Regions from separate parts of the Homo sapiens genome. Here regions 2, 3, 4, 5 and 6 are each linked to region 1. The links come from fine-mapping of genetic effects on gene expression. A gene starts in region 1. Each other region holds a variant in brackets. All regions are shown on one strand. Distances are from middle to middle.

The links.
Region 2: its variant is fine-mapped to the expression of VPS13A in tibial nerve (GTEx, PIP 0.98).
Region 3: its variant is fine-mapped to the expression of VPS13A in nasal epithelium (TOPMed, PIP 0.96).
Region 4: its variant is fine-mapped to the expression of VPS13A in whole blood (TOPMed, PIP above 0.99).
Region 5: its variant is fine-mapped to the expression of VPS13A in whole blood (TOPMed, PIP 0.97).
Region 6: its variant is fine-mapped to the expression of VPS13A in whole blood (TOPMed, PIP above 0.99).

The regions. Positions count from the first base shown.
Region 1 is chr9:77,175,136-77,180,631 of GRCh38, forward strand. VPS13A (vacuolar protein sorting 13 homolog A) reads left to right here and starts at 2,399. Exons shown (of 72, transcript NM_033305.3): 1 at 2,399-2,669. The coding sequence starts at 2,570. It overlaps VPS13A-AS1 (VPS13A antisense RNA 1), which reads right to left and starts at 2,782. Exons shown (of 2, transcript NR_026668.2): 1 at 2,492-2,782; 2 at 1,621-1,771. RefSeq lists silencers at 2,027-2,356, 2,118-2,412, 3,395-3,564 and an enhancer at 2,118-2,412.
Region 2 is chr9:77,234,880-77,240,375 of GRCh38, forward strand. VPS13A (vacuolar protein sorting 13 homolog A) reads left to right here. Exons shown (of 72, transcript NM_033305.3): 18 at 3,123-3,312; 19 at 3,393-3,507. Among named protein-coding and RNA genes, the nearest start is that of VPS13A-AS1, 60 kb to the left of the region's middle. The variant T/C (reference allele first, on the strand shown) is at 2,650.
Region 3 is chr9:77,378,496-77,383,991 of GRCh38, forward strand. It overlaps VPS13A (vacuolar protein sorting 13 homolog A), which reads left to right. Exons shown (of 72, transcript NM_033305.3): 68 at 3,481-3,592. Among named protein-coding and RNA genes, the nearest start is that of GNA14-AS1, 66 kb to the right of the region's middle. The variant C/T (reference allele first, on the strand shown) is at 3,219.
Region 4 is chr9:77,208,639-77,214,134 of GRCh38, forward strand. It overlaps VPS13A (vacuolar protein sorting 13 homolog A), which reads left to right. Exons shown (of 72, transcript NM_033305.3): 6 at 785-894; 7 at 1,978-2,037; 8 at 4,331-4,390; 9 at 4,596-4,676. Among named protein-coding and RNA genes, the nearest start is that of VPS13A-AS1, 33 kb to the left of the region's middle. The variant A/C (reference allele first, on the strand shown) is at 2,487.
Region 5 is chr9:77,112,844-77,118,339 of GRCh38, forward strand. No RefSeq gene overlaps it. Among named protein-coding and RNA genes, the nearest start is that of VPS13A, 62 kb to the right of the region's middle. The variant T/A (reference allele first, on the strand shown) is at 3,010.
Region 6 is chr9:77,360,504-77,365,503 of GRCh38, forward strand. It overlaps VPS13A (vacuolar protein sorting 13 homolog A), which reads left to right. Exons shown (of 72, transcript NM_033305.3): 59 at 33-138; 60 at 4,957-5,000. Among named protein-coding and RNA genes, the nearest start is that of GNA14-AS1, 85 kb to the right of the region's middle. The variant C/G (reference allele first, on the strand shown) is at 2,522.

The DNA of each region.
Region 1 (5,496 bases):
GACTACAGGCATGTGCTACCATGCCAGGCTCCAAATAACTTTTTATTGTTTAAAATTTTTAAAGCATAAACAGATGGAGCACAGGGCTCTGTGAAGTTAGATCAGTAAAAGTCCCATACCTATAAAACGGCCATCTTCTACACTTGTTCCTCCAGGACATCTTCTGCTTCAACAGCTTTGTGGTCTGCTTCAACAGCTTTGTTATCTGGCCATCTAGCCTGCTACCACAATGCCCATGGGGAATGATAAGGACAAGCAGCCCACCAATGACATTTACTTGTGGACAAAAGAATTAAGATTAGGAGAAAAAAAAATTCCAAGATTACTACCAGTACACCAAAACTTTAAAGACGAAGAGCTGTGGCATGGAAGGTATACATAAAACTGCAAGTCCTACTTGCAAAGTTAGAGATTTATTGTAAAGTTAGATGATATTGCAGTTTGGGGTCATTCAGATGCTCTCCCCCTCTTTTGTTTTTCCATTTGATCAAACAATGAAGTATAGCATTTTAATTGTGATCTAGAGAAAGAATAACATACACTGACATACTTCCTAATTTGAAACTCGAGTTTTTATGGTAGTCATTGGGCTTATTTTTCAAGGTACAACAGAAATTTGGTTTAATGGTTTAATGAGCATACCTTTTACATGATGATGTTAATATATTTTTGCTTACAAACTTCCTTAGATGGATTAAGCAATGCAAAGACTGAATGCAAAATGTTGTCTTTTAGTATTTACAAAGCATGTTCATATACATCTAACACTAGATAAGAATTCGGTTACAATATGCATCCACTTATTTCTAACTCTTCCTCAGCAGAATTTTTTTTCATTGCTTTATGCTTATACCTCTAACTTTTCAGCAACATCCCTTCCCCTTCCTCACTTCCACAAAATTTTCCTAGATCGTAGAAAACTAATATGAAAACGTTTGCAAGATACTTAAGATGGATTTTTGGAGTTCTGGAAATTCTTGTAACTTTGAATTTGCAGCGCTAGATATAACAGCGGAATTTTGCAGCTACTGTGTATCTGGCTTCTTATTAATAGTGCAATGGCAAAATGCCTCATTATGTAGAGCTCTTCCCCTTCCTAGGCATTTTAGCCTCTATTCGTTTCTCCGTGCAGGTATTCTGAAGCAGACTGTTAGCTGAATGAGAGAGAAGCAGGTGGGGTGGTAGCCAATCAGAAGGGCCAAGTTCCAGTTCTTCCACAGAACATTGGTTGTATGACCTTGCACACATCCCTAACACTTCAGCTTCATTATATTTAAGACTAGGAGGTTGGAGACCTCATAAAGGTCCTTCAAATATAAAATTATATGAAAAACATTCATAAACTCAGGTAAAAACTTACAGTTTTTGTCAGGCATTCTACTTGCAAAGGCACACCCTAAACATTTAATTTTGAAAAGTCGGTGACTATGCACAAAAAGTAGTAAAATGACACAGGAATTAATAGAAATCCATCATTATTCATTTAACGTGTAAAGAGAAAACGCTCAATGTACACTTTTTCGGTCCTGCAGATGATTAATTACAGTTCTCTAAACCTCACATTTAGCATCTCTGTGACCTCAGGCCTTTGGGATTACTTCTAAGTAAGACCAAACAGGTCGAAAGATCTGTAATTGTAATTTATTTTAGGTCAGTGGTTCGGTGGAGGCATAGGGGTCAAGGGTCCAGCACTCCCAGTATTTCTTGGAGGGTGTTCAGCAGTTTCCAGACCGGCTGACTCCAACTCTTATCTGCAGGGAAGCGTGTTACTCTTTGGAATGAAAGACAGCTCCGTATAAATGACTTGACCAAAAATGGGTGCTCATCTCAGATGCAGGGCAGGGACTATGTAACTCCATCCTCGACTCGCAGCAGGAAGTTAACTCCTCCTGAGAGCCAGGCGGTCGGAGGACCAGGCGGGGAGGTTACAGGCACCAAGACACCCAGGCTGGCTGGACCCTCCCACCCTGTAATGATGAGGGGAGATGCTCCCTGGGACAGCCCCCTTGAAGCTTCTGGCGACGGGGCTGGGATCCGCCCACCCTTACTCAGGGGCGAGCCCTGTCATACGCGTGGAAGCGGCCACCACCTTCTAGGGGGAGGGGCGTTCCCGTCGGGCGTAACCGCCCCGCCCTGGGGGGCCGCTGGGGACGCTGATCTGCAGGAGGGGGCGGGGTCGGAAAAAATCCGGTAGCTCCAGACCGGTGTCCCGTTGCCAGGCGATGGGGAGGAGGCGGGGCCGACAGGAAAGAGGAGCCGGGCTCGGCGCGAAAAGGGCACCCTCCAGAGCCGCGGCCGCGCAGCCGCCTTTCCTCCCTCTCAGGGCTGCGCGCCCAGGTCTGCGCCGCGCTCCGCCTCCAGCCGCGCGCAGACTTGCGCACGCGTCGTGAGAGCGACCGCCTCCGTCTCTCGCTGGGCTCGCTAGGGCTGCGCGTTGGGCCAGCGGGGGCGCCGCAGCTGAAGCCGCCCCGGAGCCGGTGAACCGAATTACCTCGAGGGAGGGGCGTGGGGAAGGCGGCGGGAGGAGGAGCGCACGGGCCGGCTGCCGTGCCCACCACGGCTGAGGAACATGGTTTTCGAGTCGGTGGTCGTGGACGTGTTGAACCGGTTCTTGGGGGACTATGTGGTGGACTTGGACACGTCCCAGCTCTCTCTGGGCATCTGGAAAGGTAAGGAGGCCGCCGCCGCCGCTCCCCGGCCTCTCGTGCTTCCCGGCCGTCTCGCTGCCCGAGCGGCGTCCTGCGTTCTCGGGGCTTCGAGCACCTTGCTCGCCGGGTGCAGCCACCTGCCGCCGCCCGCCTGTGGGTCAAGTTACGTAAAGCCGGGCGGCAGTTCCCTGGCCTCCGCCCTCGAGTTGTTTATATTTTGGGGGAAAGGAGAGGGTCATGAGTGCGGGATGAAAAGGTCTATATTTTCCGAGCGGAGCGGACTTGCCGTGGGCTCCGTGGGTCTGGCGTTCAAGTCCCGGCGAGGGGCCGTTCTCTACCCCTGGCCCCGCACGGTCCGGCTTTAGCCGCGCGGGGCGAGGAGGCGAGACGACGCCTTCCTGGGCTGGGTCCCATCCCTGTCCTTTGCCCCCCTGGGTTTATGACGAAGGCCCCAGAAATCCCCCGCGTGTTGCATGCTGCCTCGCACGTGAAGGCAGGGCGCTGTGACCGGGGACGCCCGCTTCCTTGCTTCCCCAGCCTCAATTCCTGGCTTCACCCGTGGTGCTTTCTGCTCTCCCCCTTCCGGCCCTAGGACCCGGACGCCGGCTCTCTCTCGCCTGGGTTCGGCGGATAACAAAAAGGAAACTCAAGTGCAAAGTAACTCAAACAGTTGCTTGTGTGGTTGCAGTTAACAGCCTGACCTAGGAATGTGTAACATTTTCAAGACTTTAGGATATGTGGGTCAGAGTGAATTGCCGAATTTTAAAGAAAAACCAGGGCGTGCGGTGCAACGTCTCAGACCTGCAAAAGACCGGGCTGAACAGGGCCCTACGCTGCCTAGGTGGTGAAGGACCGAGCTTTCCTTGTGTCCGTTTAGTGTGGTATTCTGCCTTAGTGAGAGCCTCATTTTTAGTGTTTCCATCTGTTTTTGCATTATGCGCTTGTTTATTTTAAACACCCGCTAGAAATTAGACTCCTTTGTGAAATGAATTTCCCAGGCCAAAGTGAGGGTTAATTTTGTGTGTGAAGTGTGTGTGTTTAAATATATATTTAAAGTAATTTATTCTTGTCTGTGCACACACTTCCAGTCTTCTTCTAAAATACTTACCTTGACTCTTCTCGTTTATGAGATAATGTAAACAGGTAGTTTAGTTTGATTTTAAAGAATGTTACTACCGTGGGGACCTAGTATCATGATGGAGAGTGAGTGGACTACAAAAGCTAGGGATATAGTGATAGCTGCTCAGCCTGTTTGATTAGTACAAGAAACTTGCAGTCTGTTTATGCTGCTTCTTAGTTGCAAAGTGAAAATAAAATTTGTCTCCCATGTACCTCAGAAGGAAGCCTTAAGAATACTTGAGGTGAACTTTGATCTGTAGTGGAGTCTTGCTTCCACATTCAGGGTGGAGGTTTGTCTAGAGTGTGATTAATCAACTTATTTATTTGTTTAAAATTTACATGCAGTAAAATTCACTCTTGTGATACAGTTCTGTCTTGACAAATGCTAAGAGGCATGTATGCACCACCACAATAATGGCACATAAAAGGTTCATCAAGCCTCCCGAATTCTCTCAGCTGCTCCTTTGCAGTTGATCTCACCCCGCCACCACGCCCGGCTAATTTTTAGTAGAGAGGGGGTTTTGCAATGTTGGCCAGGCTGGTCTCAAACTCCTGACCTCAAGTAATCCGCCTGCCTCTGCCTCCCAAAGTGCTGGGATTACAGGCGTGAGCCACTGCGCCCGCCTGACTGTAAGTATTTATCTGTTTGCTGGTTGAAGAATATTTCAGTTTTTGGAGGTTATAAATAAAGCCGTCATAAACATTCACGTACGGGTGTTTGTGTGAACATAATTGTTATTTCTCTTGGATAAATACCTAAGAGTGGTTTTAAATTGGGTTGTACGTTTTTTTTTTTTTTTTGAGATTTATTTCATATACCATAAATTTCACTCTTTTAAAATGTACAATTCAGTGTTTTTTAGTATAGTCACAAAATTGTACAACCATCACCACTCTCTCATTCCGGAATATTTCAGCACCCCAAAATTAAATCGTATGTCCATTAGGAGTGACTCCCAATTTCCTCCCTTCTCACTACTCCACCTCTGGCAACCACTAATCTTTCTGTCTTTATGGATTTGGTAATTCTGGACATTTCATTTAAATGGAATTATATGATATGTGGCCTTTTGTTTCTGGCTTCTTTAACCTAATGTATTTTCAAGGTTCCTCCATGTTGAAGGATGTATGACTATTTCATTTGCTCTTAGGGTTGAATAATATTCCATTATATTCATAGACCACAATTTATTTATCTATACTCACCAGTTGCTGGATGTTTAGATTATTCCTAAACATCCACCTTTTGGATATTATGAATAATGCCACTGAACATTCATGTACAAGTTTTTTTGTGGATGTATGTTTTAAATTCTCTTGGATATATACCTAGAAGTGGAATTGCTGGGTCATATGCTGACTTTGTGTAACCTTTTGAGGAACAGCCAAACTCTTTTTCCAGAGTGTTTGTTTTCTTATGGTTGAGTTTTGAGAGTTCTTTAAATATTAAGGATACAATTTCTTCATCAGATATGTAATTTGAAAATACTTTCTCAGTCTTTTCCCATTTTGTCTTTTGCAGAGCATACATTTTTGATTTTGGGAAAAGCCCAGTTTATAAAACATTTCTTTTATGAATCATGGCTTTTGGTATTCATATCTAAGAAATCTTTTCCCAACCCAAAGTCAAAGATGTTCTCCTGTGTTTTCTTAAGGAAGTTTTGTAGTTTTAGGTTTTGGATTTCTTTTTGTATAAGGTGTGTGATATGTGTTGAAGGTTGAGGTTCAT
Region 2 (5,496 bases), 60 kb after region 1:
AAGACAGTCAAATTTGAATTGACACTAACTTAACTTTAATAGTGTATAAAAACTCTACTCTTATGCAGCTCCATTCTTCATCTTTACGTTATCATTTTCACAAATTACTGCTTTACATACTTGTGTTCATTAGTCTAGGTTTATATTTGTTTTTATGTGTTTGTCTTTAAATCATAGAGGAATTAAAAAGAGGAGTTAAAAACCAAAAATGCAATATTACTGGCTTTCTTATTTGCTTATGTAGTTACAATTACAACAGTTCTTTATTTATTTGTATGGCTGCAAATTACTATCTAATATCCTGTCATTGCAGTCTTTAGGACTTCCTTTAACCTTTCTTGTAGGGCAGGTCTACTAATGACAGACAGACTCAGTTTTTGTTCATCTGGAAATGTGTTCATTTTTCCTTCATTTTAGAAGGATAGTTTTGTCATATATAGATTTCTTGGTTGACATTTTTTTTCATTTAGTGCTTTAAGTACATGATCTTGCTGCCTTTTGGACTGCATGGTTTCTGAGGAGAAATTAGCTGTTAATCTATTACATATCTTGTTATGTGATGAGTTGCTTCTCTCTTGCTGCTTTCAAGATTTTCCTTGTTTTAGCTTTTGACAGTTGGATTATAATATGTTGCTGTGTGAGTCTCTGAGTTTATCCTAATTGGAGGTCTTTGAGCTTCTTGGATGTATAAATTTGTGTTCTTTATCAAATTTGAGAAGTTTTTGGCCATTATTTCTCCCAGTATTTTTAATGTCTTTTTCTTTTTCTCATGTCCTTCGGAGAGTCCCGTAGTGCATATGTTGTTCCACTTGATGGTCTCCCACTTTAGGCACTGTTCATTGTTCTTCATTATTCTTTATGCTCCACAGACTCAATAATTTCAGTTGTCCTGTATTCAAGTTTGATGATTCTTTCTTTGGGCTGCTTAGATCCTCTGTGAAACCTCTCTGCAGATGGTTCCCAAATCATGATTGTTCAGCTTATGATTTTTTTGATTTTAGAATGGTGCGAAAGTGATCCATATTTAGTAGAAATCTTACTTTGAGTATCCATACAACCTTTGTTTTTCACTTTTCAGTACAGTACTGAATAAATTACATAAGCTATTTAACATTTTATTGTAAAATAGGCCTTGTGTTAGATGATTTTTCCCAACGTAGACTAATATAACTATTCTGAGTACATTTAGGGTAGGCTAGGCTAGGCTATGATGCTTGGTAGGCTAGGTGTGTCAAATGCATTTTAAACTTATGACATATTCAACTTACAATGATTTTATTGGGACATAACCCCATTATAAGTCAAGGAACATCTGTAGTGAAGTTTTCATATTGGCTGTTGTACTTTTCACCTTCAAAATTTCTGTTTGGTTCTTTTTAATAATTTCTGTCGATTTATATTCTGTGCTCAAATGTTATTTTCCTGGTTTTCTTTAGTCTTTGAGTGTAAGCTTATTTAACATGATGGCTTAGTGAACATAATGCTAGTCTTCCCTTTTCTGTGTAAGCTTTGTACATTTTTGTTTAAAACTTGATGTTTTGAGTGGTATAATGTGGTAACTGTGGAAATTAGATGTCCCCCCTCTCCATGGTTAGTTGTTGTTGATTGTTGAAGGATGTAGTTTTCCATTTGTTTACCTACTGTAGTGGGTAGAATTGTATCATCCAAAACATTGTCAATTTCTAATTCCCAGTACCTGCAAATATAGCCTTATTTGGAAATAGCCTTTGCAGATGTAATCAAGTTAAAATGAGTTCATGCTGTATTAGTGTTTGCTCTAATTGAATGATGTGTGCTCTTCAAAGGAAAGAGAAATTTGAACACAGACTCAGAAAATAAGACAGACTAGAGAAGACAATTTGCAGACAGACATAAAGAGGAGAATGCCATGTGACGATATCTTCTTAGCTGCGCCCATATTAATGTAGATTTTCTGTAACGTGGTGTGGGGATTAGAGGTGGGAAATGATCATAGCTCAGATGCCACAGGCTCTCCCTGTTCTTATCAAGTTTTAGTAGATTTTTTTGTTTGTTTTGAGATGGAATGCCACTCTGTCGCCAGGCTGGAGTGCAGTGGCACAATCTCAGCTCACTCCACCTCCTGAGTTCCAGAGATTCTCCTGCCTCAGGCTCCCGAGTAGCTGGGATTACAGGCATGTACCACCACACCCAGCTAATTTTTGTATTTTTAGTAAAGACAGAGTTTCACCATGTTGGCCAGGATGGTCTCGATCTCTTGACCTCGTGATCCGCCTGCCTCAGCCTCCCAAAGTGCTGGGATTACAGGCGTGAGCCACCGAGCCCAGCCTAGATTTTTTTGAATAAAAGTTTTTCTGTTTGCTGTATGCCCTTAGATTGATTTCCAGAGATTTTATAATTTTCACCAGTTCTTTCCCTGTTTGGTTTGCTGGGGAGAAGAGTTGCTGAGCTCCTCACATAGTCATTCTCGAAGTCCTGCCTCATCCTTGGTTTTTAAATGTTTATTAAATTGTTTTATTTTTTTGAGACAGAGTCTCACTCTGTCACCCAAGCTGGAGGGCAGTGGCATGATCTCGGCTCACTGCAACCTCCACCTCCCTGGTTCAAGCGATTTTCCTGCCTCAGCCTCCCGAGTAGCTGGGACTACAGGCTCATGCCCCCACACCTGGC[T/C]AACTTTTGTATTTTTAGTTGAGACAGGGTTTCACCACGTTGGCCAGTTTGGTCTCGAACTCTTGACCTCAAGTTATCCACCTGTCTTGACCTCCCAAAATGCTGGGATTACGGGTGTGAGCCACATGTCTGGCCTTTAAATGTTTATTTTTATTTTTAGAAGAAAACATGTTTATAGACTTGTGTTAAATATGCAAAACTTTTCAGTTTTACATTAAGCATTGTAGATTTACTGTCATTTTAATTTTAGCTTATCATAACTTTTTTACATATAAGTCAACACAAATAGGATTCTTTGTGAATTAATCTATGTCAATTTAGAGGAATCATTGTATGTCTTCTTTGATGGGAATGGACTGGAGTCAGAAATGCAAAGTGAAGTTGTCTTCATTAATTTTTTAAATCATTTTCAATTTTTAAAATCCTTCACAATTTTACTGATCGCTGACTTTTTTCTTTTTTTTTTAATGCAGATTTGAAACTAAAATAGATTCATTTCATATTACTGGCTTACCAGATAATTCAGAAAAACCCCGCCTCCTGTCTTCATTGGATGATGCAATGTCACTTTTCCAAATTACATTTGAGATAAATCCATTAGATGAAACTGTTTCTCAGAGGTGTATCATAGAAGCTGAACCTTTAGAAATCATATATGATGCAGTAAGCATTTTTTTAAATTACTAAGTTTTAATATAATTTAGTTTGCTTTGAGTTTGTGTTAATGATGTTTATTTTAACAGAGGACAGTGAATAGTATAGTGGAATTCTTCAGACCTCCAAAAGAGGTACATCTAGCACAGCTCACTGCAGCAACTTTGACAAAACTGGAAGAATTTCGCAGTAAGACAGCAACAGGTAAATGCCAATATTAATGTTGGTGAATTAAATACTGTATCCTATATTAAACTTTTATTTATGGTAGAATGTTTTTAGTAAAGTTTATTTTAAATTTATTATATTTCTAGACTGGTTTTAGTTTAACAGAAACTAATTTAGTACTTTTATGTTTAAAGGCAGATAAAACCATAATCATTTTTTACACTCAGAAAGTTCATACCTAGTAACCACATTTAAGTTAGTTGCAAAATTTTGCTTAGGATACTTGGACCTCTATTTATGACAAAAACTGGCCTCTCGTTTTCCTTTCTTAGAATGCGTTCCAGATTTTGATATATCAGCCTCAGGGAAAAAAGTTCTATCCTTTTTTATTCTCTAGGAGAGTTTGAATAAGGTCGGGTACGATTTCTTCCTTAAATATTTGGCAGAGCTTAATGGTAAAACCACTTGGTTTTGGAGATTTCTTTGTGGGAAAGTTTAAGATTACAGATTGAACTTTTTAATTAAATAGTTGACCATAGAGATTATCTGTATGATTTTAATGCTTTGTAATTGGTTGGGACTTGTTTTCTAGCTCAATGTATGATATTAAAAAAAATGTTCCTCATATGCTGAAAAGGCTGTCTTTTCATATCTATACCTATTCATTAGGTATGGATTGTTAATCCTTTACTTCAAATTTTTTGTATCCTTACTGGATTTTTTTTTTCCCCTTTTGTCACCTTGTTCTAACAGTTATTAAGAGAAATACATGAAAAATGCCTCATTATCAATGTAGATTTTTCTATTTCTAATAGATCTGTCAGTTTGTTTAAAAAAATAAATTTGGCTGGGCGCGGTGGCTCACACCTTTGATCCCAGCACTTTGGGAAGCCGAGGCGGGTGGATCACCTGAGGTCAGAGTTTGAGACCAGCCTGGCCAACATGGCAAAATCATAATAGAGACGGGGTTTTAATAGAGACCAGGTTTCACCAGCCTGGCGACAGAGCAACACCCTGCCACACACACCAAAAGTAATAATAATAAAAATTAAAAAAAAAATAAATTTTAAGACTGTCATTAAGTACATGCAGGAGTAAATTATTTTTCCTCCTATAAACCACATCTTTAATGCTTTAATTTTTTTCCCTTTGTACTTTTTTATTTTATTTTATTTTTGATCTGATGTCAGTATGAAGTACAAAGTTTCTTTTCGTTAGAATTTACCTGGTATATATTTTTTCTTATATTTTTACTTTTTCCCTGTGTTTTCAGATGTGTCATGTCAACAACATGTAATAGGATTTTTTCCAATCTAGATTTATGGTCCTTATTTTTTATTTATATCTACTTTTTGCATTTAATTAATTTATTTAGGCTTATGTCTAACATCCTATTTTGTGCTTTTGAATTTGGTTTTCCTTGTTTTATTTTTCTTGCCTTCCTTTGGATAAATTCTAGGATACCTTTCTTCCCCCTTCCCTACAATCTACTATTGGGAAGTTAAATATTCTCTATCTCTTTTTATTTTATAAATTACAGTATACATTTTTGTAAAAATATAAATTTAATGAAAAATTTTATATTCTCCTAGTCATTATATGGACTTTAGTACTCTTGAACTTTATATACCATCCCCATATACTATTTTTTTTACTTAAAAATACTTTATTGTACTGTATGTATATAGTTCATGGTAGTTTACAATTACTTGTGCATTTACTACCTTCTTTGCTCTTCATTTCTCTTATAGCTTACACTTTTTATTTGATTTTATTTTCTTTCTGTTGGAAGTTCATTTTTTTTTTTTTTCAACCTCTGCCTCCTGGGTTCAAGCGATTCTCCTGCCTCAGCCTCCCGAGTAGCTGGGATTACAGGCACCCACCACAACGCCTGGCTAATTTTTAAAAAAATTTTTAATAGAGATGGGGTTTCACTGTGTTGGCCAGGCTGGTCTCAAACTCCTGACCTCAGATGATCTATCCTCCTCGACCTCCCAAAGTGCTGGGATTACAGGTGTGAGCCAT
Region 3 (5,496 bases), 200 kb after region 1:
TTCCTAGTATTCCCTTATAATTATTTTTTGTTTCCATAAGATTGGTAGTAGTGTTCCCTCTTTAATTCCTGTTATTCATAATTTGGGTCTTCTTTTTTTTCTTGGTCAGTTTAGTGATGGCGTGTCATTTTTGTTGTCCTTTTCAAAGAACCAGTTTTTAGTTTCATTGATTCTATTTTTTCTATTCTCTATTTCTTTTATCTCTGCTCTAATTTTTATTATTTTCTTCCTTCTGCTAGCTTTGGGATTAGTTTGCTTTTTCTACTTTCTCAACTTGTGAAGTTATATTATTGATTTCAGACCTTCTTTTTTAATGTAGACATTCACATCTATAAATTTCCCTCTGAGCACTGTCTTTGCTGCATCTTATAAGTTTTGGTGTGTTGTATTTTTGCTTTTATTTGTTTCAAAGTAGTGAATTTCTTTTGTGATTTTTTTCTTTGACATTTTGTTATTTATGCTTCTATGTTTTAATTTCCACACACTTGTAAATTTCATAAATTTCTCTTATTTACACATTTCTAGTTTTCTTCCATGTGGTCAGGTATCATACTTGTATATTTTCAGTCCTTTTTTTTTTTTTTTTTTTTTTTTGTGAGATAGAGTCTCACTCTTGTCACCCAGGCTGGAGCAGTGGCGTGATTTTGGCTCACTGCAACCTCTGCCTCCCAGGTTCAAGAGATTCCCCTGCCTCAGCCTCCTGAGTAGCTGGGATTACAGGCACACACCACCATACCCAGCTAATTTTTTTTTTTTTTTTTTGAGACAGAGTTTCACTCTTGTTGCCCAGGCTGGAGTGCAATGGCGCTATCTCAGCTCACCGCAACCTCCGCCTCCCAAGTTCAAGCTATTCTCCTGCCTCAGCCTCCCTAGTAACTGGGATTACAGGCATGTGCCACCACACCCGGCTAATTTTGTATTTTTAGTAGAGACAGGGTTTCTCCATGTTGGTCAGGCTGATCTCGAACTTCCGACCTCAGGTGATCTGCCCGCCTTGGCCTCCCGAAGTGCTGGGATTGCAGGAATGAGCCACCACGCCCGGCCATTTTTGTATTTTTAGTAGAGATGGGGTTTCACCATGTTGGCCAGGCTTGTCTTGAACTCCTGACCTCAAGTGATCTGACCACCTCGGCCTCGCAAAGTGCTGGGATTACAGGCATGAGCCACCACGCCTGGCCTATTTTCAGTAGTTTTATATTTACATTCAATGTTAGCCAAAAGGCCAAGAAGCAAACAGTAATTTTATATTATTGAGACATGTTTTATGACCTAATAGATAGCTAATACTGAATAATGTTCCGTTGCACTTGAGAAGAATATATATTCTGTTGTTGTTGGTTTGAACGTTCTATAGACATCTGTTGGGTCTAGTGGATTATAGTGTTATTCAAGTTCTCTTTTTTCCTTGCTGATCTTTTATCTAGTTGGTATCCATTTTTGAAAGTAGGTTGCTGAAATCTTCAACTATTATGGTGGTATTGCCTTTTTGTCTTTTAAATTCTTAGTTTTTGTTTTGTGTATTTGGGGCTTCTTTTATTAGCTGCTTATATGTTTATAATTTTTTATCTTTTTGATGGATTGACCCTTTTTTCCTTATAAAATGCCCTTCTTTGTGTCTAATAAGAATTTTTTTAAAGGCTGTTTTTTTCTGACATTAGCATGGCCACTTTAGCTTTCTTTTAGTTACTGTTCACTTTGCATATATTTTCTCCTTTTTAGTTGCAACCAGTTTGTGTCTTTGACTCTAAATCAGGTCTCCTGTGGATAGTATATTGTTAGATCATATTTTTTTTATCTATTCTGTTTTTATTTTTTTACTTATGTATTTATTTTTTGAGATGGAGTCTCGCTGTGTCGCCCAGGCTGGAGTGCAGTGGCATGATCTCGGCTCACTGCAACCTCCACCTCCCAGGTTCAAGTGATTCTTCTGCCTCAGCCTCCCAAGTACTGGGACTACATGCACATGCCACCACGCCCGGCTAATTTTTGTATTTTTAGTAGAGACAGGGTTTCACCATATTGGCCAGGCTGATCTCGAACTCCTGACCTCATGATCCGCCCGCCTCGGGCTCCCAAAGTGCTGGGATTACAGACATGAGCCACCACACCCGGCCCTATTCTGTTTTCAGTTGGAGAATTTATTCATATGTATATGCCCATGCATGTGTATACATTATGTTAGCGGTCCCCAGCCTTTTAGGCATCAAGGTCTGGTTTCATGGAAGACAATTTTTCCACAGACCAGACAGGAGGGATAATTTCAGGATGGAACTGTTCCACCTCAGATCATCAGGCTTTAGTTATATTCTCATAAGGAGTGTGCTACCTAGATCCCTTGCATGTGCAGTTGACAATAGGGTTCGCCTTCTTATGAGAATCTGATGCCGCTGCTGATATGACAGGAGGTGGAGCTCAGGCAGTGAAACTTGCTTGCCACTACTCACCTCCTGCTGCACGACTCAGTTCCTAACAGGCTATGGACCGGTACTGGTTCAAGTCCCATGGGTTGGGGACCTCTTAATAAATATTTGTTGAATATGTGATACTTGTTGAGTGAACAAATTGAGTGGTCACTTATGACCAAATAAGCAAAAATGTTAAATATAATACTACCATACACAATTTAGCCGTATGTGGTATGTGTTTTTTGGTTTTTTGTTTGTTTTTAGACAGGGTCTCACTCTGGCATCCTGATTGGAGTGCAGTGGCATGGGGCTCAAACTATCCTCCCACCTCAGCCTTCTGAGTGTCTGGGACTTCTGCTGCATACCACCATGTCTGACTAGTTTTTTTATTTTTTTGTAGAGCAGTGTATGCTGCCCAGGATTGGGGTATGTGTTTACAGTAATACACATCAAGCCCAGTAAGAATGTGAGGACTGTGAGAGTATTTGAATATTAGAAAACTATATAATGTGATTTATAACATTAATAGATTAAGGAAAATATACCATGTGATCAAAACAATGCCAGAAAAGAAATTCTTATTTAAAATTCATTGCCTATTTAAGATTTTCAAAAACAGTAACAAAAAAGAACTGTTGGTAAACTAAAAGTAGCAATGAACTTTCTTGACTTGTTAAGGGGTGCTTTAAAAAAAAAAAGTTGCTGATAACTATACTTCACAGAAAACTCTTAGAAGCTTTCCGTAGGGTCAGGAATGAGACAAGGATGCTTGCAATCCCTTTTTGTTTATAGCATTATACTAAAGAAACTAGA[C/T]AACGTAATAGGAAAAGAAAAAGCAACAATTGCTAATATTGTGATTATTATCACAAAGAAAGTTCTAGAGACTTAAACTTCTCTATAGTTCTGTATTTTTCTAGAGAACTTACACTGTTTATGTTACAAAAACAATTTAAAATTAGAGAATGTTGTAATATTTTTAATCTGAAATAAGATTGTTTTTAGTAATTGCATTTTATAGTTTATTTACAAGTTTTTGAATAATTTTTAAAATAAAGTTATATTTTTTTTCCTCTAGAGCTACAGAGACTTCTGAAGTGGAGAGTCTGCGACCTCCTCGGTTCTTCAATGAAGATGGAGTTATCAGACCGTACAGGTTGAGGGATGGGACTGGAAATCAAATGTTACAGGTAAATTAAGAGCTATCTTATAAATTAAGATTAATTTAGTCAAGTTAGATTTTTTTTAAGTAGCCATTTAATATATATTAAATTATTTGGGCTTTTATCTATTTTGCTTAATTCCACTTATAAGTTTCTTATATTTACTTAGATTTTAAAGTACATTTATTTACTATAAGATTTTTTTTTCTTTTTTACAGGCATCAAAAAGTTTGATATGAAAAGTTAATGCATGACTTTGCAAGTGAAAGCCAACAGTAGATTTTAGTCTTAAAATTTACAAACTACGTACAGCTGTTTCAGTATTTTGAATACAAAGAAAACCTTTTGTATTGGTAACTTTTAATAGGAATTTTAATGAATCTGGTTTTTTTATAGGGTGTTCTTAGTTCTGCACTGGATTTGCTAGATTTGTTGGAAGCCTTTGTACCTTATGTATCCTCGTCATTGGTGGTACTTACTTAACCAATTAAACCATTTCTGTTGTGGGGTTATTAAACCACTGGTAGCTTTTATACCAGATATATAATCCTTATATCCAATTACACATGAAGAAGGAAAAGCAAAACTCAGGAACACTGCTATTGTGAATTACTCTTGGATTCTTGTGCTTTGCCTTTGAAAATGCTTAAATGGCCATGACCCTCTTCCTGCTTTATTCTAGTGTAGTCTTTATAAAACTTGTGGGATTTGATAAGCAGTTCACATGCAAACCAGTATCTTTTAATAATACAAAGTAGCATCTGGAACAATAGACAGTTTGAAGTTAGAATCTGCTTAGACAACTTTCTTACTTGGTAAATTCGACTTTTTAAAACCTGGATTATGCTGTAGGTAACTAGTAATCATATATAGGCTATACCAGTGTCATGTTGTTTCTGTGGTTTAGAGGTGGAATACTAAATTAAATCATTTGTTTGAAAACAAACAAGGAATCATTATGTTATGTAGGCTTGCAGATACTCATGGTAGCAATAAACTGTTGGAATATGAAGCTTCCTTTATGGCTTTAATATTTTAAATATTGTGATATTTAATGTGATCAGAGTAAAGATTTAAACTTCAGTATTTTACCTATTGCAGGGCATATAGTATTGCATAAAATATACTTCTAACTCTTTCTCTGAGGCTTCTAATATACAAAAATGTAACCATAGAGTTAATATGCAATATTTAGTTAAGTGATTTTATACTGTATTTAAAATGTTTTTGAAGCATCAAAATCATTGTATATTGGGATAGAACTGGTAATCTATTAAGAGGTTGTGCTCTAATGGACAGATTGTGCAGTCTCTACAATGACAGTGTATCGTTCTTTGGAAGATAGTAAATTTGCAGAAGTCACCCATGGCTGATACAGTCAAAACATGTATTTCTACCCAATACCTGCCTTCCCTTGTTAGAACGCATTTAACAAGTTACTAACATTTTACTAGACTAAAAATCAAATATAGTACGAAGTAAGGATGAGTGTTGAGGAGAGTTTAGGAATATATCCTCATTATAAGTGAGCACGTTATGATACCCACAAGGAAGCCATGAGATACCAATAATTTCTCATGGTTGATAATTTGATTTTAGTGAAGCTTCTCATTGTTTTCTGAAGCTTTAAACTTTGAGATGTAAAAACATGACTTTTGACTGTGTACTTTTAAAGATACATATTTATTTTTAATAGGTCAGTCTCATCATTAATCACTAAAAGAGCTATTTAAATGACTAAAAACCACAGCACTTGTCAGCCATTACTTGTTTTTCAGCAAGCATTTACACAGTATTAGCTGAAATATTTGTAGGGATTCACCAAGTACCTTGGGATGTTGCAGTTAGCATTTTTTTCTTACAGGTATAAAAAGTGGATTGTTGTTTTGATGGTGGTGGGTTTTGTTTTTTTTTTTTTAATCAAAGCTCTA
Region 4 (5,496 bases), 34 kb after region 1:
TCTCTGGTTCAAACGATTCTCCTGCCTCAGCCTCCCAAGTAGCTGGGACTACAGGCATGGACCACCATACCTGCCTAATTTTTATATTTTTAATAGAGACGGGGTTTCGCCATAGTGGCCAGGTTGGTCTAAAACTCCTGACCTCAGATGATCTGCCCACCTTGGCCTCCCAGAGTGCTGGGATTACAGGTGTGAGCCACCTTGCCCCTCCAATTCTTGATTCTTTCTATTTCTTTGGAAAGTAATGGAACTTGAGATAGTTAATGCTGTTTTCTGAACATGAAATAGTTGATGAACTTCTTTCATCCTTGTTCAAAAGAAGAAAGAAGATCTTATTTCCTATTTTGTATTTACTGGGGGAGGAGGATATTCAACTGTTTTACACATCTATACACAGGCAACTTAATGGTGGTATCACTAATTTTGAGAGAGATTTCTGCTTTGCTGCTGTTAGTGGATTTTCTCATTTAAGTCTATTGTAATTCTTACCCAATAATCTTCATTTTTAAATATATTTTTGTACTCAGGCATAGGTTAACAGAAATTATAAAATTTAATGCCAGTAAATTCTACATGGTCTGCTTTAGTCTCATGGCACAATAAACTAGCTTTTGAAAAATGTTTACTTGCTTTTGAAAGACTTTTGGAAAGCAAGCTATTAGTGTTCTATTTACATATATATGTATATTTCAGCAAGGCAACGTAAGCATGTTACTTCAGTATGTGGATATTTATAGAGTATATTTTTCATTCAATTTTAAAAAAGGAATATTTGCAATTGTAGAACAACATCTGCCGGAAAAACAGGACACTTTTGCAGAAAAATTAGTTACACAGATCATAAAAAATCTTCAGGTGAAAATTTCCAGTATCCATATTCGTTATGAAGATGATGTAAGTATTTTAATATGTGATATTTGTTTTTATATTTATATGTAAGTTATTTTACTATTTAATGACACCTACTTTTTAATGGCCAATCTGTTAAATCCCAAAAGGTTACAGAGCTAAAGATGATGTGATCCTTCTTTTCTATAATTATAGTTGTAATTTGCAGTCCTTAGTGTTGAGTGCTTGATTTTACACTTTCCCAAAATGTTCAGACATTAGATCATGAAGGAAATGCCTTGGGAATTATGAATTTAGCAGTTATGTATTTTTAAAATACTTTAAAGTATGCTATATTTACCTCCTGGATGGAGTACTGGTCTAGCAATTAGTGGAGCTAGCCTTAAATAATTCCTTGATCCTGAATAGGTCATTTGTTTTCTCTTAACCAGATAATTATTTGCTTTATAATCCTATTTTGTTAGTCTTTTTTAATAATTTTTTTTGTAAACTGGAAAACATGCAGTATAATATTCCTGTGTAACACGAATACATTAATAATTAGTATTCTAATTTGTTTTAGGAAAAATATAGGAATGAAAGTTTTTCTGGAAAGTAATAAAATGTTTCTGAATGTTTGAAATAAGTTACTTCCCAAAAAGTTATCCCTCCCTCCCTTCCTCCCCCCACCTCCCTCTCTCTCTCTCTCTCTCTCTCTTTCTCTTTCTCTCTTTCTTTCTCTTCTCCTCTTCTCTCCCCTCCCCTCCCCTTGCCTCCCCTTCCCAAGACAAGGCCTCACACTGTCGCCAGGCTGGAGTGCAGTTGCCCGATCATGACTCATTGCAACCTTGACATTCCTTGCTCAAGTGATCCTCCCACCTCACCCCCACCCACCCACCCTGCAGTAGCTGGGACTACAGTTGCACCCCACCAGGCCTGGCTAATTTTCTTAACATTTTTTTTTGTAGAGGCAGGATCTCACTGTGTTACCCAGGCTGGTCTCCAGAGCTCAAGCAGTCCTCCTGCCTTGGCCTTCCAGAGTGCTGGGATTACAGATGGGAGCCGCTGCACATTGACAGTTTTTTCTATAAAGTGGATTTTATCCAACTACTAAAAATCTGAATAAATTTTACTTTCTTTCCTCTTTAGATCACAAATCGGGACAAACCGCTGTCATTTGGTATTTCCCTTCAAAATCTGAGCATGCAGGTATTTTGTTTATAAAAGAATCTTAACCATATTTAATGTGCAATATAGTCTATTAAACTGCTACTATTTGTATATGCCAGCATCAGAAATAGGTGTCTATGTAGAACGGGTGCACAAAGGGTCTTCATTGGATTGGAATCGAGGGTATGTAGATTCACATTTCAAAAAATGGTTGAAAATCAAATTCAGAAATATGAGGTCCTATTATTATTGGTAATTATGATGTTAGATGCTTTTGCTTACTTTAAGAAATCCATTTCCAAGTTTGTAATGAGTAAGTACCAAATACAAGTAATAAATGTTCATATCTGAAACTTCGATAAGCCTTGAAAAACAAAAATCTTCAGTTTTTCTCAATATCATTATTAATATTGTAGCATAGTGTTTTCCTGTTTAATTTTTGAAATTGAGGAATTTTAAAAATATAAGAACATGTAGAGAATTTTGAA[A/C]CATATGCTTGCCTCCAGAATGGATGGCTGTTAAATTAAGAGCCTATTAAAATAGCCTATTTGCTTAAAGTCTTAAATATTTTTATAGGAATAAGCTGTTTTGGATAAAGTTTGAATCCCTTTTGTTTTCTACTTCCACCCACCCGTCCTTCCCCAGAGATAAGTATCCTAAATTTTAAAACTTTTATATAATATATCTATTAAAAATGTAGGATTATAAAAGTTTACGCGTTTTATATGACTCTTTTATGAGTTCCTTTTTGCACTTTCCAGTGTTGTTGACATTTATCTGTGTTACCACATGTAACAAAATTCATTCAGTTTAACTGCTGTGTATTTCATTGCATGATTTTATTTGTTGTATCTATTGGGTTTTGTGTAAGATTTCTTTTTAATTTTATTATTATTTTTAAATTGGGCAGCCTCCCAAGCCAGAGCAGGCTCAGAGAGACTCCACAGTTTCTTTTTAAAATGTGGCCCCACTGCAACGAAAAAAGAAAAAATGCCCTCCAAAAAGTTACTCAAATACTCTCATTAAGTTGAAAAATAAGAATGGAGAATTAGCCATTGGATTGGGCAATGTGAAGATCTTTGGTAACCGTGATAACAGTAGTTACTAATCATCACCTTTGGAAACTTGTCTGCCAGCCTAGACCTGTTCAGTTAGAAACTCTAGGATTTGGTTGCAGCAATCTGTGTTTTACAAAGCCCTCTAGGTCAGGGTTCCTGGGCCACAGAACAGGAGGTAAGGCCTGGGAGTGAGCATTACCGCCTGAGCTCTGTCAGATCAGAGGTGGCATTCGATTCTCGTAGGATCCTAGCGAACCTTATTGTGAACTGCGCATCTCAGGGATCTAGGTTGTGCCCCTGATGGAAAAGTTATCTCCTATGAAACTGGTCGTTGGTGCCAAAAAGGTTGGGGACCACTGCTCTAGGTGATCCTAATGCATGCTAAACTTTGAGAGCTACTATTCTAATTATCCATTCAGTTCGTCTCCACATAGAAACGAAAACCATCTTTCTGAAATAAAGATCTGATCACTTTATTCCTCTCAGTGGCTTTTCATTGCTCTTAGTTTTATCCTTAAACAACTTATAAACCCTTTTTAAACCGACCCCAGGCAATATACCTGGTTTTACTTTTTTTCTCTGTCTGTTTTGCATTATATTCTCCTGCATACTGAGCTACTTCAGTTGCCTGAATGTGCCATATATTTGTGTACTTTTGGGCTCTGCCTGTTGTGAATCATATTCCCTGTCGACCTTAGAATCAATAATTTTTAGTTACATGTTATATATTAGGTTATATATAACATCTCTTTATCCATCACACCCCTGAATTGGATGCTCCTGCCATGCCCTCTCAATGAAATGAGAGGGCATTTTTTTTGTAGAGACAAGGTCTCACTTTTTGTTGCCCAAATTTGTCTCAAACTCCTGGCCTCAAGCAATCCTCCCAACTCAGCCTTCCAAAGTGTTGGGATTACAGGTGTGAGCCACTGCACCCAATGATACCTGCAAATCTAAATAGCTCCTAGAACATTCTTTTATAAGTTAAATGAGTTATGAGTTTTAGAAGTTAAATGAGTATTTAACTTCTGCTGTGGCACTTACCTGTTGGAAGTTGCCTGTTTCTTTGTTTGCTTTTCTGACCCGCAATGAGCTCCTTCCTTGAAAGCAGACACTTTACTGTGGTCAGTTAGTATTTTTTGATGGAGTGATATGTCTTTAAAGGCATTTTCATGAAAGGGACATTGGTCTAGGGTATGGTAGATAATGATTTATTACTCTGCTGTTTCAAATGGAATGACCTTTTTACTGCCATTGTTTTTTTTCCTTTTCAGACAACTGATCAATACTGGGTTCCATGTTTACATGATGAAACTGAGAAACTGGTTCGTAAGGTAAATAAATACTGTGTTTGTCAACTCATGGACTTAAGAGAATTTTGGAAAGCCAAATGATAATATATAGATAAGGATGTATGTGAATTTTGCTTATTTGTTTAACTCTGTGATATGGCTCACTTAATTATTTGAGACTTCTGAAAATAGTGTATGATAAAAATTCTTCAAAGAAAATGAGACATCTAATAAATTTTATTTTCAGTTAATCCGATTGGATAACCTGTTTGCCTATTGGAATGTGAAGTCTCAGATGTTTTATCTTAGTGATTATGATAACTCCTTGGTAAGTAAATTTTTTCTGTATGTATTTGTTGGTATCATATTTTGCATGAGGTTTAATTCATTGTCATTTATCTAATATACTGTAGTCAGTATTTTTTCCTAGGCACAATCTATTAGCAGAATTTACAGATACAGGTGAAGATGTGTGTAACTATACACAAACATGAATACATACCCCCATATCTTTTTTTTTTTTTTTTTGAGACAAGGTCTTGCTCTGTTGCCCAGGCTGAAATGCAGTGGCACGATTATAGCTCACTGCAGCTTCTAACTCTTGGGCTCAAGCAATCATCCTTCCTGCCTCAGCCTCTTGAGTAGCGAGGACTATAGGCACACGCCACCATGCCCAGCTAATTTTTAAATTTTTTTGTAGAGACAAGGTCTCACTTTTTGTTGCCCAAATTTGTCTCAAACTCCTGGCCTCAAGCAATCCTCCCAACTCAGCCTTCCAAAGTGTTGGGATTACAGGTGTGAGCCACTGCACCCAATGATACCTGCAAATCTAAATAGCTCCTAGAACATTCTTTTATAAGATTAGTTTGGTGAGATGTTGTTTAACTACTTTAATATTTTGCCATAGCTAAGTTCTAAGTTTGAATTGGTTTTTAAAATTGCTTTTAAACATTTTTCTTTTGCAGATAATAGGATTTTTTAGGATAAAGACATATTGGCATGAATATGGCTAGGCGTGGTGGCTCACACCTGTAATCCCAGCACTTTGGGAGGCCGAGGCGGGTGGATCACTTGAGGTCAAGAGTTCAAGACCAGCATAGCCAACATGTTAAAACCCTGTCTCTACTAAAAATACAAAAATTAGCCAG
Region 5 (5,496 bases), 62 kb before region 1:
TGGTTGAAAATCCTTAGAATATTTTAGGGGCAGAAAAAACAAACAAAGAAGCTTGACTCGGTTGTTAGTTGTCTTAGTGGAATAATTCTGGAACTTTCTGTGTATATGTAAGATAGAGCAAATGAGTAAATGAATTGGTTCTTTGGTGAACCAAGTCCCTTGCTGTGGGGAAGGGGAGATACACTTGTGGAATAGAGGAATGTGAGGGACCCTGTGATGTTGGATTTGAATTGCAGTATCAGTATAAATTGAGTCCCAGGAGCAATTAGCATACCTAGAGCCCAGAATGTGGCTTCTACATACCTTTCTCACAAAAAGGAACCAGGGTTCTTTGTGGTTAGTTCCAGGTGTGAGGTGGGAAAATTACAGAAGGAACCTGGAATATCTTAAGCCTGAAAGGAAGGAAGTGCACTAAAACTCAAGGGAACACAGGAACCAATTGGCCAAATATGGGACAATTTGAGCATCAAAGCCGGTCGTTTAAAAATGAATCTTTTAGTTTATTATAATAAGCAAAAAGAAGAGATGGACAGTGAAGAAATTCTTTAGAGAAAGTGCCAGCTAACAAAAGTAGAAAGAAATACAGAATTAGCAAACCACCACCATACCACCACTACATAATGATTGAGTCAGGCAAGGATCATCTACGAATTCTGAAAGCAATGTGGTGAAAGGTCATCTTGAAATGGGATATCCACACAGTCTGAAAGACTACAGGGTCCTCACTAATTTTAGAGAAAATGTATGTCTTCACAACAGAGAAATGTTGTGCACACTACCTTAATCGAATGATCAAACTTGACATTATCAATAATGAGACAACCTGACGCTATGTGCCTCTCTTATGAAGCAATGGAAAGTACCTATGTTGTCAGCCATGTAATATTCTCTTACCAAAAATGCTTAACCCTATACAAATTAGTTAGGCAGAAGGAATAAGATCTAGTGTTCAGTAGCACAGTAGGGTCATTAAAGTTACAATAATTTATTGTATACTTCAAAATAACTAGAAGAGAAGATTTGGAATGTTCCCAACACAAAGAAATGATAAATGTTTGAGGTGATGGATATCTCAATTACCTGTATTTGATCATTACACATTGTATGATTGTATCAAAATACCATATGTACCCCGTAACTAAATACAACTATTATGTGTCCATACAAATTAAAAGTTAAAAACACATTAAAAATACTTAACCCTAATATAATTTTGTGAGGATATAATTTAACAAATCTAAATGATGTGACATTCTACAAGACAACTGCTCTGAGCTCCTCAAAAATATCAGTAACATGAAAGTAAAAAAAAACCAGAGGCTTATTGTACTGGATTTCAACAAGCTTGAAGAAACATGGCAACTAAATAATCCTCTGCATAATCCTTGATTGTACTCTGGATTTTAAAACAAATCTATACAAATACATGATTTGAGTAATTGGTGGAATTTGAATATTAATTACATTTTGGATAATATTATTGTGTCTGCTGGGCACAGTGGCTCACACCTGTAATCTCAACACTTTGAGAAGCTGAGGAGGATTACTTGAACCCAGGAGTTTGAGACCAGCCTGGGCAACATAGTGAGACCTCACCTCTATAAAAAAAAATTATCTGGGAACGATGGCATGCACCTGTGGTCCTAGCTACTCCAGAGGCTGGGATGGGAGATGGGAGGATCGCTTGAACCTGGGCAGTTGAGGCTGTAGTGAGCCATAATTGCAGCATTGCATTCCAGCCTGGGTGACACAGCAAGATCCTGTCTCATAAAAAAAAAAGAAAAAAAAAGAATATTATTGTGTCAATCTTAAGTATCTTGGGAGTGATAATGGCATTGCGACTGTGAAGAATACATACTGAAGAATTTAAAGGTGAAGCATCATGATATCAGCAAGTTACTTTCAAATGATTCAGCACAACAGAGAGGGCAGAGGCACAAATGTGGCACAATGTTAACAACTGATGAATAAGGGTATGGAGGCATTGTGGTTGTATGTTGCTGCATACCAAACTACCCCAAAGGTTAGTGGCTTAAAAAAAAACTCATTATATTTTACCATTTTATGGATCAGGAATTTGGGAGGACTTTCACTGGATGATGGTTCTGCTCTAAGTGGCATTACCTACAGTCACTTGGTGACTGGCTATTCACACAGCTGATGGACAACTGGTTCAGAGAATCCAAAACATGCCTGGTGCTTTGGTGGAGATGGCTGGATTGAGCTTTCCCTCTCTGGGTAGTCTTGGGGTCTCTCATCAGCCTCTTCACCAGGGTAGTGGAACTTAACATGGAGGCTCAGGGCTTCAGGAAACCCCCTAAAAAAGCCAGTCTTCTTGAGAGCTAGGTCCAGAACTGTCACAGAGTTCTGAGTTAGATTTCAGAGCAATCTAAAATCTTCTGCCATTTTAGATTGCTCAAGAAGTCACAGTAGTTCAGATCCAAGAAAAAAAAGGGACCCCACATCTCAATGAGAAGAGTGTAAAATAACTTATGACCATCTCTACTCCACCACAATAGGTTTCTATAGTTTTGAACGTTTTCAGAATGAGGGGTGGGGGAAGTTTTAATTAGTGTGTTTGGCATTGTTTTGCAAGTATATCCGTACCCTAAACTCCTAATTGTTTTTTATTTTGATAGTTCCGAGTTCCTCTCCAAAAAGTATATACCAGTTTGCCTAGCAAAAGTGCATGGGAGTCACTGTGTTCTTCATTATTCGAAATAGTTTTAAAGTATACCTATACTGTGACATATCCCTCATCAAAAAGTGGAGTCTAATTCTTCTTCCATTCATTGTGGGCCACACTTAGTAGCTTCTAATGAATAGGATACGGTGGGAGTGATGATGTGTGATTTGCAAGGTGAGATCCTAAAACGAGGTCCAGCTTCCCCCTGAATCCTTGTCTGTTGGGACATGCACTTTGGGAGCCCTGAACTGACAGCTAAGAACCCTGGCTACTAGAGTGGCCAACTTTTTTGAGGGCCAACGTGGACACAACTATACTGAATT[T/A]AAAAAAAAAACCCAAATGTAATAATCTAATATGTAATGAATAAGTATACTCAAATGTGTTATTACTTTAACATAAAATATGAAAAATGGTATTTATTTGAAATTATATGTTCTGTACTACTTACTTTTATGTTAAATAAATGCTATTATTTAAACAAAACAACAATAAGCCTAGATAGCAGTGGCGGTTAGAAGTGATTAATAGCAGGATTAAATAAGCAATATGTGTGAGAAAATATAGCAATATTTTTTGATGTTTCTGTCTTCTGATACAGCAATTTATTTGAACTCTTTTTAAATGCTTTATTGGACTTTTTAATATTTCAGGTTATATTTTTATAAATTCTTTTTTTTTTTTTTTTTTGAGATGGAATCTTGCTCTGTCTCTCAGGCTGGAGTGCAGTGGCATGGTCTCTGCTCACTGCAACCTCCACCTTCTGGGTTCAAGCGAGTCTCCTGCCTCAGCCTCCCACGTAGCTGGGATTACATGCTTGAGTCACCATGCCTAGCTAATTTTTGTATTTTTAGTAGAAATAGGGTTTCCCCATGTTGGCCAGGTTGGTCTCAAATTCCTGACCTCAGGTGATCCGCCTGCCTCAGCCTCCCAAAGTGCTGGGATTACAGGAGTGAGCCACCACGCCTGGTCCTTTTTTTTTCTTTTATGTAGTACTAAAACTGAATACAGGCAAAAGTAAGATTCAGTTTGACTTGCAGTTCTGCTTTTATCAAACCCATATTACACTGATTCCTGGTGTCAGGTCAATGTGATGTCAATTAAGCTAGCTATCCTCTCAACAAAAATGCCTATGTTCCTTTGCACATGAAATACTCAGGATATTACTTACTGGCAACAGCAGAATTTGGACCTGTGGTGCTCTAAAAATGCCCGTCTGTTCTGTATCCACAGGCTTGTTCTGGTACACCAGCTCATCATTAAGCAGGTGCTTTGCATCTATAACTTCATCGTTATAGGCTATCCATGTCTAAAATGTCCATGATTTTCAAACACTCACATTAAATGTCATGATTAATTAAGTCTCTCTCAGGGAAAATTTTTGAACTTGTAAAATTGAAAGTAGATTTGACATCAACCTAAAAAGCGTTTACACGGCAAAGGAAACAATCAACAAAATGAAAAGGTAACCTGCCAAATGGGAGAAAATATTTGAAAACCATATATCTGACAAGGGGTTAATGTAAAAAAATATATCAGGAGGCCGGGTGCAGTGGCTAATGCCTGTAATCCCAACACTTGGGAGGCCAAGGCGGGCAGATCACCTGAGGTCAGGACTTCCAGACCAGCCTGACCAACAAGGTGAAACCCCGTCTCTACTAAAAATACAAAAATTAACCAGTCGTGGTGGCGGGCGCCTGTAATCCCAGCTACTTGGGAGGTTGAGGCAGGAGAATCACTTGAACCCAGGAGGCAGAGGATGCAGCGAGCCAAAATCATGCCATTGCATTCCAGCCTGGGCAACAAGAGCAAAACTCCATCTAAATAAAATAAAATAAAATAAAATAAAATAAAATAAAATAAATATATCAGGATAGCACACAATTCAATAGCAAAAAAACCCAAATAACACAATTTAAAAATGGTCAAATGACTTGAATAGACATTTTTCCACAGAAGATATACAAACGGCCAACAGGTATATGAAAGGGTACTCGACATCACTAATCATCAGGGAAATGCAAATCAAAACCATAACAGGTTATCACCTCACACCTGTTAGGATGGCTAGTATCAAATATAAAAGAGATAAGTGTTGGAGAGGGTCTGGAGAGAAAAAGAGCCCTTATACACTATTGGCAGGAATGTAAATTGGTACAGCCATTATAGAAAACGGTATGGCAGTTTCTCAAAAAATTAAAAATAGAACTACCTTATGATCCAGCAACCCCACTTCTGGGTATATATCCAAAGGAAAGGAAGTCAGTACCTCAAGGAGACATCTGCATCCTCATGTTCATTGCAACATTACTCATAGTAGCCAGCATATGGAGACAACATAAGCACTCATCAGTGGATGAATGGATGAAGAAAACGTGGCATATACACACAATGGAATATTATTTAGCCAAAAAAAAGAAGAAAGCCTTGCCTTTTGTGACAACAGGGATAAACCTAGAGGACATTATGCTAAGTGAAATAAGCCAGACACAGAAAGATAAATACTGTGTGATCTCACTTATATGTTGAATCTAAAAAAACCAAACACAGAAACAGAGGGTACAACAGTGGTTGCCAGGCAGTAGGTGGTGGGGGAAATGGGAAGATGTTGATCAAAGGGTACAAACTTTCAGTTATAAGATGAACAGGTTCTGGGAACCTAATATACAGCATGGGTGAGGGTGTGTTAATTAATTTGATTGTGATAATAATTACAAAAATGTATACACATATCAAGTTATCATGTTATAAACCTTAAATATAGCTATAATATTTTTCAATTAAATATTTTTAAATAAAAAAAGAAAGTAGAT
Region 6 (5,000 bases), 190 kb after region 1:
TTTTAAAAAATGTTTTCTACTTTGTAATACAGGTATTTCAAAGTATTGATTCAAGAAATGGATCTCAGGTTAGATCTTGGGTTTATCTATGCTTTAACAGACCTTATGACAGAAGCTGAGGTGACTGAAAATACAGAGGTAAGACTTAAAATAATAACATTTGATGGAAAGGATTAGGGAAAAGATATTATTATAAATTTTTAAAGGTATTAAAATGACTTTGTTGCATTTTAAAAATACAATTAAATAAATTTTATTACTCTCTTGTGGTACATACCTTTTTAGAAATCTTATTTTCTGATGATAGAAAATTAGCAAACAGGAGGAAAGGCTTGGGGTGAATAGCAGGGAGAAAAGGATAATTTGTCATGTTCACATCACTTTTTTCCTCTTTTATTTTCCTGGATTACTTTGGCTTTGCTTTCACTTTAATAATTTAGAAATTTAGGGTATGTCCAGGATATTTAATGGGAGAAAGGATAGGAAAATTAAAAGGTGGTATCATCTGGGTGACTGGAAGACCATAAAATCATAGTTATAAAGTGGGTCAGATATAGTCTGTTTTTCACTTGCCCTCATAGATTCATGGATGGAGAAAGAGCAAATTAGTAACAGTCTATTGAGGTATAGATCACATACCATACATTTCACCCATTTAAAAGATAGGGTTCAATGACTTTTAATGTATTCACAAAGTTGTACAATCATCATCACTCTCTAATTCCGGAACATTTTCATCATCCCCAAAAGGAACTGCCTGTGCAGCCACTGATACACTTTGTGTCTTTAGGTTTGCCTATTCTGAATATTTCATACAAATAGAATCATACACTGTGTAGTCTTTTGTGAAGGGCTTCTTTGACTTAGAATAATGCTTTCAAGGTGCATCTATGTTGTAGCATGTATCAGTACTTCATTCCTTTTTATGGTTAAGTGATATTCCATTATATGGATGGGCCACATTTTGTTTATCCATATATCTGTTAATGGACGTTTGGGTTGTTTACACATTTTGGCTTTTATGGATAATGTAATGAATACTGGTGTACAAGTTTTTATTGGACAAAAACTTTATTAAAAGTCTTAAACTATTTAAACTTAATCACCATGTGATTAAGCAATTCCAATCCTAGGTATATAGCCAAAAGAAATAAAATTTTATTAGAAGTGGAATTGCTCAATCACATAGTAACCTTATATTTAATCATTTGGGACTGTTAGGCAGTTGTGCAAAGTGCCTCCACCATTTTACATTCTTACCAGAGCATATGAGGGCTCTGATTTTTCCATATTATCCCCAACACTTGTTACTATCTGTCTTTGATTCTAGCAATCATAATGGGTGAATGTGAAATAGTTTGTCATTGTGGTTTTGACATGTAATTACCTGATGACTAATGATGTTGAGCATCTTTGATATGTTGATTATCCTTTAATATGTTAAGTAGTTAATTTGCATATCTTATGTGAAGAAATGTCCATTCAGATCCTTTGCTTATTATTTAATGAGTTATTTGTCTTTTTTCTTATAAAAGTTATTTGCATATTCTCGATACAGGTCTCTTATCAGATACATAATTTTCAAATATTTTCTCTCATTCTGTGTGTTGCTTTTTCACTTTCTTGATGTTGTCTATTGAAAATCAAAAGTTAAAGTTAATGAAGTTCAAATTATTTTTTATTTTGTTGCTCATGCTTTTGGTGTCATTTCTAAGAATCCTTAGCCAAATCCAAGGTCATGAATATCTTACGTTTTACGAATTTTAAAGATCTAGCTCTTATGATTAGGTCTTTGATCAATTTTTAGTTCATTTTTGTATATGATGTATAAGGATCCAAATTATTCTTTGGCATGTTGCTATCCAGTTGTCCTATTACCATTTCTTTAAAAGACTATTTGTTCTTTGAATGGTCTTGACACCCTAGTTGAAAATCAGTTAACAACACACATGTGATTTTATTCCGTCGATCTGTGCATCTGCCCTTGTGCATTGCACACTGTCTTAGTTATTGTTTTGTATTAAGTTTTGAAATTGGGACATATGTATCTTCCTACTTTGTCCTTCTTTTTCAAGATGGGTTTGGCTGTTCTGAGTCCTTTGAAATTTCATATGAATTTTAGAATCAACTTGTCAGGTTCTTCAAAGAAGTCAGCTGGACATCTGATAGAGACTGCATTGAATCTGTAAATCAATTTGGGAAGTATTGCCATCCTAACAGTATTAGGTCTTTCAGTCCTTGCACATGACATGTTTATCCATTTATGTAGATTTTTAATTTTTTTTAACAATGTTTTGTTGTTTTTCAGAGTGTAAGTTTTACACATTTTTCATTAAATTTATTCCTATGTATTATATTCTTCTTATAGTATTATGAATAAAATTGATTTTTTAATTCCATTTTTGGATTGTTCATTGCTACTGTATAAAAATGCAGTTGATTTTTTTATACTGATCTTGTATTTTGCACCCCTACTGAATTGTTAGCTCTATTTGTTGTTCCGTATATTCTTTTGGGATTT[C/G]TATACATAAGATCGTGTCATCTGAGAGGAGAGGTAGTTTTACTTCATTCTTTCTGATCTGAATGCCTTTGTTTCTTCTTCTTCCCTAGTTGTTGTGTCTAGAAATTGGTGACACATTAAACAGAAGTGCCAAGAGCAGACATTCTTCTTTTGCCTCTGATCTTGGAGGGTAAATTTTCAGTCTTTGAGTATGATATTGACCCTGGGTTTTTCCTAGACATCCTTTTTCAGGTTGAGGAAGTTCTTTTCTTAGTTGGTTGAGTGTTTTTAATCATGATTATATATTTTGTCATTCTTTTTCTGCATCTATGGAAATGATTGTACACTTTTTGGGTTTTGTTCTACTGATATGTTTTATTACATTAATTTTTTTTTTTTTATTTTTTTTTTTTTTTGAGACCTAGGCTCGCTCTGTCTCCCAGGCTGGAGTGCAATGCTGCAAAAGCAATCTCAGCTCACTACAACCTCCGCCTCGTGGGTTTGTGCAATTCTCGTTTTTCAGCCTCCCTCCCGAGTAGCTGGGATTACAGGCGTGTGCCAAAATGCCCAGCTAATTTTTGTAATTTTAGTAGAGACAGGGTTTCACCATGTTTCTGTGTTTTTTTGTTCTGACCTCAGGAAAACTCCTATTTGTCACTTTCTCTGATTTTCTCCTGCAAACTATTAGGTCTACAGGTTAGCCAGTATCTTCTGTAAATCAATGACTTTCCTTTTAGTTGTCTTTCACCACATCTGCTGTTTCTGAGAGCCCTTAGGCTCGAACTGCACTATATGTTATAAGTGAAATTAGTTCCTTTGGGAAGAGATTAATAGTTACCTGTTTTAAAACCTACTTTCCCCATCAGCAAAAATCCCTAAACCAGGCCTCTGAAGCTGGCGGTGGGAACAGTTGTGACACCCTTCTATTTGAGTAACACCCCAGTTTAGGAGCTGAGCACTATGTGTGGTGGGGTAAGAGGGGCAGTGGCCTGAGATGATCTCAGCTTGCCTTTGCTGGCATGGAACCACCACATTACAGGCCTGGGCAAGAGTGATCAGAACTCTAGTATTCTCAGTGGTACTGTACCCAAGGCAGAGCTTTTTTACCCTGCACAGAGGCTGGACAGAGAAAGGAAGCCCTGCCAAGTACGGTGGCTCACGCCTGTAATCCCAGCACTTTGGGAGGCCAAGGTGGGTAGATCACTTGAGGTCAGGAGTTCGAGACCACCCTGGCAACATAGTGAAACCCCATCTCTACTAAAAATACAAAAATTAGCCAGGCGTGTTGGCAGGTGCCTGTAATCCCAGCTACTCAGGAGGCTGAGGCAGGAGAATTGCTTGAACCCAGGAGGCACAAGTTGCAGTGAGCCGAGATCGCGCCACTGCACTCCAGCCTAGGTGACCAGAGCGAGACTCCGTCTCGAAAAAAACAAACAAACAAAAAAAAACCCATAAAGGAAGCCCCCGCCTCACAGTTGCACTCAACCATAACTTAACCTCAGCAGCAGGTAGCTGGGAACAGGATGAGAAATGCTGACGTCCTGTTCTTCCCAGGAAGGAAGTCCTCCAATTGAGGACTGGGCCAAGAAGGAGCTCTGTGTTCTTGGGTATACTAGTCTAGAGTAGAATTCTGGCTCATTAGTCTGGGAGAGGGGACAGAGGGAATGGCCTTTGTTAAAACACCACGGATTCGCTTTTCTTACCAAATTCTTTAGGTTTTCTTAAATAGATGTTTCTTCATTTGCTTATGACCTTAAAACCATTCCTAGAGGCCTTAAATTTGTTGTTGTTGTTGTTTAAATTTTATCAGTTTAGCTGGGGTGCTGGTTTGAAGAGCTTCCCACTGTCATTTCAGAAATTGATTTCTAAATATACTTTTTATAAGGCTATCATTTCTTATGTTTTTATGAATATGTTAAAATGTGAATCTTGGGGCTCATTTTTCAACACATAGAAGTTACTTCCGTCTGAGCATTTAAAGGAGAAGTATTGATGAATATCAAGAATGAAACCACCAATCAATTAATGCAAAATTGTTTTCAACACCTTCTTTATTTTATTATATTACTGATCTGTGTAGGATGCATTAAAGCAATTACAAGTAGACTACAAAATACAAGTTGACTGTATGATTATGTTTAAAGAAACAAATATACCCAAGAGAGTGTTGATGGTATGGATTAATGTCATTTTGGGATAAGATTTATAGTCACATGGAGAAAAGCTTAGTGTCTTTTAATGGTTTGGATAGAAATATAGAAGATAATGCTTGTTGGTTTGTCAGTGGCAGACAGAACTGTCCTATAGATAGAGATGTTACTTTCCCTTCTGAGGCAATCATAAGCAATGTTGAGTCTGGATCTTATAGAAGAGTTTTGGCAGTGTGTCTTCTATTTGCTTAAATATCTCATGCAGGTAGGTCCCTTTAGTTTTAATATTTTGTGTTCCTTTTATAGGTTGAGCTTTTTCATAAAGATATAGAAGCTTTCAAAGAAGAATA